Regions from separate parts of the Homo sapiens genome. Here region 2 is linked to region 1. Evidence: fine-mapped expression QTL. A gene starts in region 1. The other region holds a variant in brackets. All regions are shown on one strand. Distances are from middle to middle.

The links. PIP is the estimated chance that this variant, and not a neighbour inherited with it, causes the effect.
Region 2: its variant is the best candidate, but not a certain one, in a credible set for the expression of WDR59 in whole blood (TOPMed, PIP 0.80).

The regions. Positions count from the first base shown.
Region 1 is chr16:74,983,080-74,987,474 of GRCh38, reverse strand. It overlaps WDR59 (WD repeat domain 59), which reads left to right and starts at 2,352. Exons shown (of 26, transcript NM_030581.4): 1 at 2,352-2,511. The coding sequence starts at 2,458. RefSeq lists silencers at 1,061-1,261, 2,297-2,606 and an enhancer at 1,907-1,966.
Region 2 is chr16:75,039,843-75,044,237 of GRCh38, reverse strand. All of the region lies in intron 1 of ZNRF1 (zinc and ring finger 1), which reads right to left. Among named protein-coding and RNA genes, the nearest start is that of ZNRF1, 43 kb to the right of the region's middle. The variant A/G (reference allele first, on the strand shown) is at 2,527.

The sequences.
Region 1 (4,395 bases):
GGAACTTATGGGTTTCTTGGGATGCAAGACTTTTTGGTGATGCAGTGCTAGAATATGAAAAGGGATCAGGCATGGTGGCTCACACCTATGGTCCCAGCTAATCCAGAGGCTGAGGCCGGAGGATCACTTGCTTGAAGCCACTACTTTGAAACCACCCTGGGCAACACAACGAGACCATCTCTACAAAAAGTAAAAAAAAAAAAAAAAAAAAATAGCTGGGCATAGTAGCACATGCCTGTAGTCCCAGTTACTTGGGAGGCTGAGGCAGGAGGATTGCTTGGGCCCAGGAGTTGGAGGCTGTGGTGAGCTATGCTCACACCACTGCACTCCAGCCTCAGTGACAGAACGAGACCCTTTCTCCAAAAAAATAAAAATAAAACATGAAACGGTCCAGGCAACAAGTTAGTCACCGTAATCTGTCAACAAGTCTGTCTTCCCCCTTATAGCCAATACTCCAGGAGGGAAGAGACCACACTTTCTTACCTCTATTCATACAATGACTTGCACATACAAATAGTGATAATATTAACAACAACAATAACAGTTTATTTTATTTTATTTTTATTGATTTCCTGGCTTCTAGAACTGAATTAATAGTTTATAGTTGAGCTTTTCTACATCCCAGGCCCTGTGCTTAGTTCCTTACAACAATCCAATGAGGTAAGCCATTTTTCCCTTCTATAGGGAAACTGAAGCTAAACCAGTTAAATCAACATTTAAGAGTGTGGGACTGAAAAGGAAACTTAATCACCACCCACCATGTTAGTACAGTGGTTCTCAAACTTTTTGATCTTGGAATCCCTTTACACTGCTGTTAAAAATTACTGAAAATCCCAAAAAAACTTTTTTTTTTTTTTTGACAAGGTCTTGCTCTGTCGCCCAGGCTGGAGTACAGTAATGTGATCCTAGCTTACTGCAGCCTCCTTCTGGGCTCAAGCCATCCGTCCACGTCAGCCTCCCAAAGTGCTGGGATTACAGGCATGAGCCACTGCGTCCGGCCCCCAAAAACTTTTATATGTAGTATACAGAATTTAAAAAATATATTCATTATTTCATTTAAACATTAAGGCCCTTCACATGAATACATTTTAAAATGAAAAAGAACAATATTTTCAAAAAAAAAAAAAAACAACAAAAAATTCTGGCAAATCTGTTTTAATGTTTGGTTTATCAGAAAACAGCGGCCGGGCGCGGTGGCTCACGCCTGTAATCCCAGCACTTTGGGAGGCCGAGACGGGCAGATCACGAGGTCAGAAGATCGAGACCATCCTGGCTAAAACGGTGAAACCCCGTCTCTACTAAAAATACAAAAAAATTAGCCGGGCGTAGTGGCGGGCGCCTGTAGTCCCAGCTACTCCGGAGGCTGAGTCAAGAGAATGGCGTGAAGCCAGGAGGCGGATCTTGCAGTGAGCCGAGATCGCGCCACTGCACTCCAGCCTGGGCGACTGAGCAAGACTCTGTCTCAAAAAAAAAAAAAAAAAAAAAAAAAGAAAAGGAAAGAAAGCAGCTGGATTGCAGGAGGGGGTATAGCTCACAGGTAGAGCATTGGACTACAGATCAAGAAAACAGCTGGATTCTCACATTTAAGTCTACCTTCATTGTTACGGGAGGCGCTGCTGTATTGTATGAAACAATAAATTGCACATTCAGACTTTTAAATATCTCGATGGGATAGGCATCAGGAGAAGAGGTATCTTCGGTTTGCACGAGCTTTGATTTTTCTTTTTTCTTTTTTTTTCCGAGACGGAGTCTCGCTCTTGTCACCCAGGCTGGAGTATAATGGCGTGATCTCGGCTCACTGCAATCTCCGCCTCCCGGGTTCAAGCGATTCTCCTGCCCCAGCCTCCCAAGTAGCTGGGATTACAGGCGCCCGCCACCCGGCTAATTTTTGTATTTTTAGTAGAGACGGGGTTTCACTATGTTGTTTAGGCTGGTCTCGAACTCCTGACTTCGGCCTCCCAAAGCGCTAGGATTACAGGCGTGAGTCACCGCACCCGCCCCGAACGTTGATTTTGATTTGAGACTGGGTCTGGACGAATGCTGGGGACTCCAGCGAGGAGCTAGTCAGGACAACAGGCACCTCACCTCACCCAAACCCAAACCTGCGAGCCCTTCCCAGGTCACCCACGCTTGCTCGAGCTTGGACTACAACTCCCGGCAGAGCTCGCGGCAGGGGGTGTGCCCGCAATCGCGAGGAGCGTGGGTGACTCAAACCAAGTGACGGAAGTGAGCGAGGGCGTGCCTGTTTGTTGCAGGCGCGGTGTAGCAATTGGAGGACCCAGGAAGAAGGGGCGGAGCCTATGCTTGGGTCAACCAATGGCTTGAGCTCAGGAGCAACCAGGGCACGGGGCGTGTCGGGGCTGATTCTCTGGCTGTGTGGGGCGCACGGTCCCGGGATACTGGGGACGGCGGGGTGGGAGGGCGCCGTCCTGGGGCCGCGGCGGCCGGGCGGGGGAGATGGCGGCGCGATGGAGCAGCGAAAACGTGGTTGTAGAGTTCCGTGACTCCCAGGTGAGCTAGAGGCCGAGTGGAGCCCTCTGGGCATGCGTCCTCCCCGCTTCCCCTCCCCCACGCGGCTGCTTCCGTCCCGGGGGGCTACGGGGAGACCCTAGGCCCCGTACTGAGGAGGTGGGCGGGGCTTAGCCGACCTCTTAGGCCCCGTCGGGGGAGGGAAGACGACCATCGGGGGCAATCGGGGCGAGCATGGACGGAGTTTCGGGGCTCCCTACGCGGGTAGGGGAGTGGGGTCCGCCTTGTGACACTGAGGCAGAGACTGCGCATCGTGAGTGCTGAGGGGAGGCTTCCCACAATCAGGGTACGGAGCGAGGGCGTGACGGCTTCCCGAGGCCCTAGCCGCGTGTGGCGACTTAAGGCAAGTCGCGGGACTTTTCTAAGTCTCAGCTGCGTGGACGTAACCCTGTTGGGGTGAATTCGATGAAACACTGTTTGCAAAGTGCCTGTTGCAGCGTCTACGCGGTTAAGTGGTTCTTAATGCCATCATACTGGAAAATACCGTGTAGTGGATAGGAGTGACACTGCACGTGTTGCCCGAGTTCGAATCCCGCAGCCCCTACCCTGTCATCACTCCGTACACGTCAGTTTTCTCACCTGTAGAAGGGAGATGGTCGTACTTACAAGATTGGCTTAAAGATTTTATTTTTTAATTTTCTATTTAATTTAATTTAATTTATTTTTTTTGAGATGGAGAGTCACTCTGTTGCCCAGGCTGGAGTGCAGTGGTGCCATCTTGGCTCACTGCAACCTCCGCCTCCGGGATTCAAGCAATTCTCCTGCCTCAGCCTCCCAAGTAGCTGGGATTACAGGTGCGCACCACCACGCCCGGCTAATTTTTGTATTTTTAGTAGAGACGGGGTTTCACCTTGTTGGTCAGGCTGGTCTTGAACTCCTGACCTCAGGTGATCCACCCACCTCAGCCTCCCAAAGTGCTGGGATTACAGGCGTGGGCCACCGTGCCTGGCCTATTTTACTTCATTTGAGACAGGGTCTGGCTCTGTCACCCAGGCTTGAGTGCAGAGGCGTGAATCACCGCTCAGTTCAGCTTCGACCTCCTGGGCTCAAGCTATCCTCCCACCTCAGCCTCCCCAGTAGCTGAGACTACAGGCGCATGCCAACACGCCCGACTAAATTTTTCATTTTTTTTTGTAGAGACGGGGTCTCCCTATGTTGTCCAGGCTGGTATGGAACTCCTGGGCTCAAGCGAACCCCCTGCCTCAGCGTCCCAAAGTGTTGGGATTACAGGTGTGATTCACTGAGCACAGCCTCGAGTGAAGATTTTATGTGGTTGTATGTTGAGGATGTGTGGCACACACAGCATTGGGATTTGGATGCTGGATCCTACCCCAGAGCCCTTGTTTAGCTCATTGGACTACTTTACTCATAGTGGGTAGCTCTGAACCGGTCATATACATCCCCTCTTCCCCAGCACCTAGGACAGTGTCTTGGTGATTCTCTTCAATTTTAAATTTATTTACCTTTTTTTTTGAGACAGAGTCTCACTCTATGACCCAGACTGTAGTGTAGTGGCATGATCTTGGTTCACTGCAACCTCTGCCTCCCAGGTTCAAACGATTCTTGTGCCTCAGCCTCCCGAGTAGCTGGGATTACAGGCACGTGCCACCATGCCTGGCTAAGTTTTGTATTTTTTGTAGAGACGGGGTTTCGCTCTGTTGGCCAGGCTGGTCTTGAACTCCTGGCCTCAAGTGATCCATCTGCCTTGGCCTCCTAAAGTGCTGGGATTACAGGTGTGAGCCACTACACCTGGCCTATTATTTTTTGTAGAGACAGAGTCTCTTTGTGTTGCCCAGGCTGGTCTTGAACCCCTGGCCTCAGGCGATTCTCCCACTTTGGCCTCCCAAAATATTGGGATTACAGGTG
Region 2 (4,395 bases), 57 kb before region 1:
ATAAATTTTAAAGAAAGTCAGAGCTCTATCTGTCCTACACCTAGGGAAGGTGACATCTAAACCACTCTAAGAAATTCCAAAGTTTAAATTCTGAAAGTCAAGATCACATTTTAAAAGTACAAAGCAGCTGGGCATGGTGGCTCACACCTGTATTCCCAGCACTTTGGGAGGCTGAGGCGGGTGGATCACCTGAGGTCAGCAGTTCAAGACCAGCCTGGCCAACATGGTGAAACCACGTCTCTACTACAAACACAAAATTAGCCAGTACTACAAATACAAAATTAGCCGGGTATGGTGGTGCATGCCTGTAATCCCAGCTACCTAGGAGGCCAAGGCAGGAGAATGGCTTGAACCAGGGAAGTGGAGGTTGCAGTGAGCAGAGATCGCATCATTACCCTCCAGCCTGGGCAACAAGAACAAAACTCTGTCTCAAAAAAAAAAAAAAAAGTACAAAGCAAGAATGGCTGGCTCCTGATATGCAACAGGTTTCGTGGAAAACCAGTACTCCACCCAACCCAGGATCCCCCATGTCTCTTACATGCTATATATACCTGTGTATATATGCCATATACTGTCTCTTTTATCAGAGTTTATCAGATTGTGAGCTCTATGAGGGCAAGAACCATGTCTTATCCATTTCTGTGTATCTATCAGGACTGAAAATGATTCCTTGCATATATTATAGTTAAATGTTCTGTAAGTATTAGCTGGGTTTGAGTGAATCCAGCACAAAAAGGCCTGGTGAGGTAGAAGGAAGATAAGAACTGTACAGTTTTGGAAGGCAGCCTGTTCAAAACAAACACATGTCTAAAATGTAAAAGAAGAACAGCCAAATTTTACAAGAAAGAGAAAAAATGTTCCTTAAAGTAAAACTGAGGAAGGGAAGCACCAGTTTCCTCTCACAAGCTTCTGAAAAGATAAAACCATGTCTGGTTTCAGTGATAATGTGTTACAGGCTTAGGCAAGAACAGGTGAAAAAAATCTGATAAATGCAATCAACCATGAAGCTGGCCACAGCTCAGGGCTGAGGGAACCAGACTTGGCCAGGCTGCTTAGAAACTCATTGGTATAAATACGGCTTTAAAACAAAGGAGGCTCAAAAAGAGGAGAGATGATAAATGCATCAGTCTCAACTTGTTCTTTATTGTAGACAGTCTCCCACTTCTATTCAAGTATTTTTGGAGTGCCAACTACCAGTGAGACAAGGAGGTGGGATGACACCAAGTATAACACCAAGGGAAGCACTCAAGGGTCATCTTTACCGTCCCGGAGCTGGCCTTGGCCTGCGTTCCCACTAGCTGTTAAACCCAACATGCCAAACCTGGAAGAACGCTAATACATCAAGCATTGGTGTACAGCAGGCCTTCGCTTATTATAACCTCTAAAGAGCAGTGAGCCCATTTCAGGCCCTCTGTGAGAGGTCACAAGGACCTCTGAATGAAAAAATATCAGGATTCAAAAACCATTCTGCAGAAATCAACAGGCTGATCCTAAAACGTACATGGAAATGCAAAGGACCTAGGATAGTCAAAACCCAACATTATTTTGAAAAAGAGGAACAAAAATGGAGACTGTACACTACCCAATTTCAAAACTTATCATAAAGTTACAAGTAACCACAATAGCAACAGACACATAAATCAATGGAACAGAATTGAAAGCCGAGAAATAAACCACTACATTTATGACCAGTTGATTCTGCCAAGGGAATTCAGGAAGAAAGGATGGTCTTTTCAACAAATGATGTTGCTACAACTAGAAATATGTGTGTTTACAAAAAAAAAAAAAAAAAAAGAAAGAAACAGACACTCCCTCCCTCATACCATATCCAAAAATTAACTCAAAATGGAACACAGACATATGTAAGAGCTAAAACTATAAAACTTCTAGATGAAAATAGGAGAAATTTTTGTAACCTTGGTCTAGACACTTTTTTTTACATATACCAAAAGCATCATTCATAAAAGCAAAAAATTGATAAATTAGACAACCAAAATTAAAAATGTTTGCTCTTCCAAAGATACCATATAAGCAAATAAAAGCACAGGCCACACATTGGGAGAAAATAGTTGCAAATCATATCTGACAAAAGACATATTCATAATACATAAACTCTTACAACTCACTGACAAACAACTCAATTTTTAAAAATGAGGATATACAGAAAATCATTGGACCTTCCTCTTAATTTTGCTGTGAACCTAAAACTGCTCTATTAAAATAATTAAGTCTTTGTTTTTTGAGACGGAGTTTTGCTCTTGTTGCCCAGGCTGGACTGCAGTGGCATGATCTCAGCTCACTGCGACCTCCGTCTCCCAGGTTCAAGTGATTCTCCTGCCTCAGGCTCCCGAGTAGCTGGGATTATAGGCGTCTGCCACCATGCCCAGCTAATTTTATATATATATATTTTTTTTTTTAGTAGAGATGGGGTTTCACCATGTTGGCCAGGCTGGTCTCGAACTCCTGAGAGAATTAAGTCTTAAAAACAGAAAACAACAAGCAAGCAAAGATTTGAATTGACATTTC[A/G]CCAAAAAAGATAAGTGAATTGTTAAACACATGAAAAGGGATCATCACTAGCTAACGAAATACAAATTAAAATCACAGTGAGGACTGGGCACGGTGGCTCACGCCTGTAATCCCAGACCTTTGAGAGGCTGAGGCGGGCGTATCACTTGGGTCAAGAGTTGGAGACCAGCCTGGCCAACATGGTGAAACCCCATCTGTAACAAAAAATACAAAAATTAGCCGGATATGGCGGCATGCACACGTAGTCCCAGCTACTCTGGAGGCTGAAGTGGGAGAATCACTTGAACCCAGGAGGCAGAGGCTGCAGTGAGCTGAGATCATGCCGTTGCACTCTAGCCTGGGCGACAGGGTGAGACCCTGTCTCAAAAATAAATAAATAAATAAAATAAATTAAAATCACAATGTGGTACCACTACATACCTACTAGAATGACTATAATCCGTAAGTCAACAATACACGGTGTTGGCAAGGATGTGGCAAAACTGGAACTCTCAACCATTGCCCATGAAAATGTAAAATGTACAGCCACTTTGGAAAAGGCTGCCAGTTTCTCAAACGTTTAAACACAAACTTCTCATATGGAATCTTATGTCCACATAAAATCACGAACATGAATGTTCACAGCAGCATCATTCATAATTGTCTTAAGCTAGAAACAATCCAAAAGTCTATCAGCTGGTGAATGGATAGACTGACTGTGGTAAATTCATATAATGGAATACTATTTAGCAATAAAAACTACCGATGTCAGCACAAACTACTGATACATACTCAACACATATGAACTTAAAAACATGGTAAGTGGGCTGGGCATGGTGGCTTATGCCTGTAATCCCTGCACTTTGGAAGGCCAAGGTGGGTGGATCACCTGAGGTCAGGAGTTCGAGACCAGCCTGGCCAACGTGATGAAACCCCATCTCTACTAAAAATACAAAAAATTAGCTGGGCATGGTGGCGCGCACCCATAATCCCAGCTACTCAGGAGGCTAAGCCAGGAGAATCACTTGGACCCAGGAGGCAGAGGTTGCAGTGAGCCGAGATTGCGCCACTGCACTCCAGCCTGGGCAACAAGAGCAAAACTCTGTCTCAAAAAAAAAAAAAAAAAAAAAAAAACCCACAAAAAACAAAAACAAAAACATGGTGAGTGAAGGACACCAAACAGAAAATAATACATACTGTATGATTTCATTTATATGAAATTCCCAGAAAAGGCAAATCTAGAGAGATAGCAGTTGCCCGGTGGGGAGCAGAGATTGACTAAAAACAGGCATAGGAACTTTCTGAAGTGGCCCTTTCAGATGTGGTGGTTCACATCCGTAATCCCAGCACTTTGGGAGGACAAAGTGAGAGGATTGCTTGAGCCCAAGAGTTTGAGGCTGCAGTGAGCTACAGTCTCACTACTGTACTCCAGCCTAGGTGGCAGAGTGACGCCCTTGTTTTAAAACAATAAAAATAAAAAAAGGACTTTTTGAGAGATGGAAGTGTTATAAAATTGGATTTTAAGCCATGCGTGGTGGTGCGCGCCTGCAGTGCCAGCTACGTGGAAGGCTGAGGAAGGAGGATCCCTTGAGCCTAGAAGGTCAAGGCTGCGGTGAGCTATGACCATGCCACTGTACTGTAGCCTGAGTGACAGAGTAAGACTCAAAAAAAAAAAAAAAAAAAAAAAAAAGAAAGAAAAGAAAGAAACAAAAGATTTTAGTGATGGTTTCATAACTATATATTTACTAAATCTCATTGTACATTTATAATGTATGAATATTATGGTATGTCAACTATACCTCAGTTTCAAAACAGTAACAACCAATATCCCACAACATCTGGAGGATCCCTAACTGCAGGTTCCTATATACAGTGAAAATCTTTTGGGAT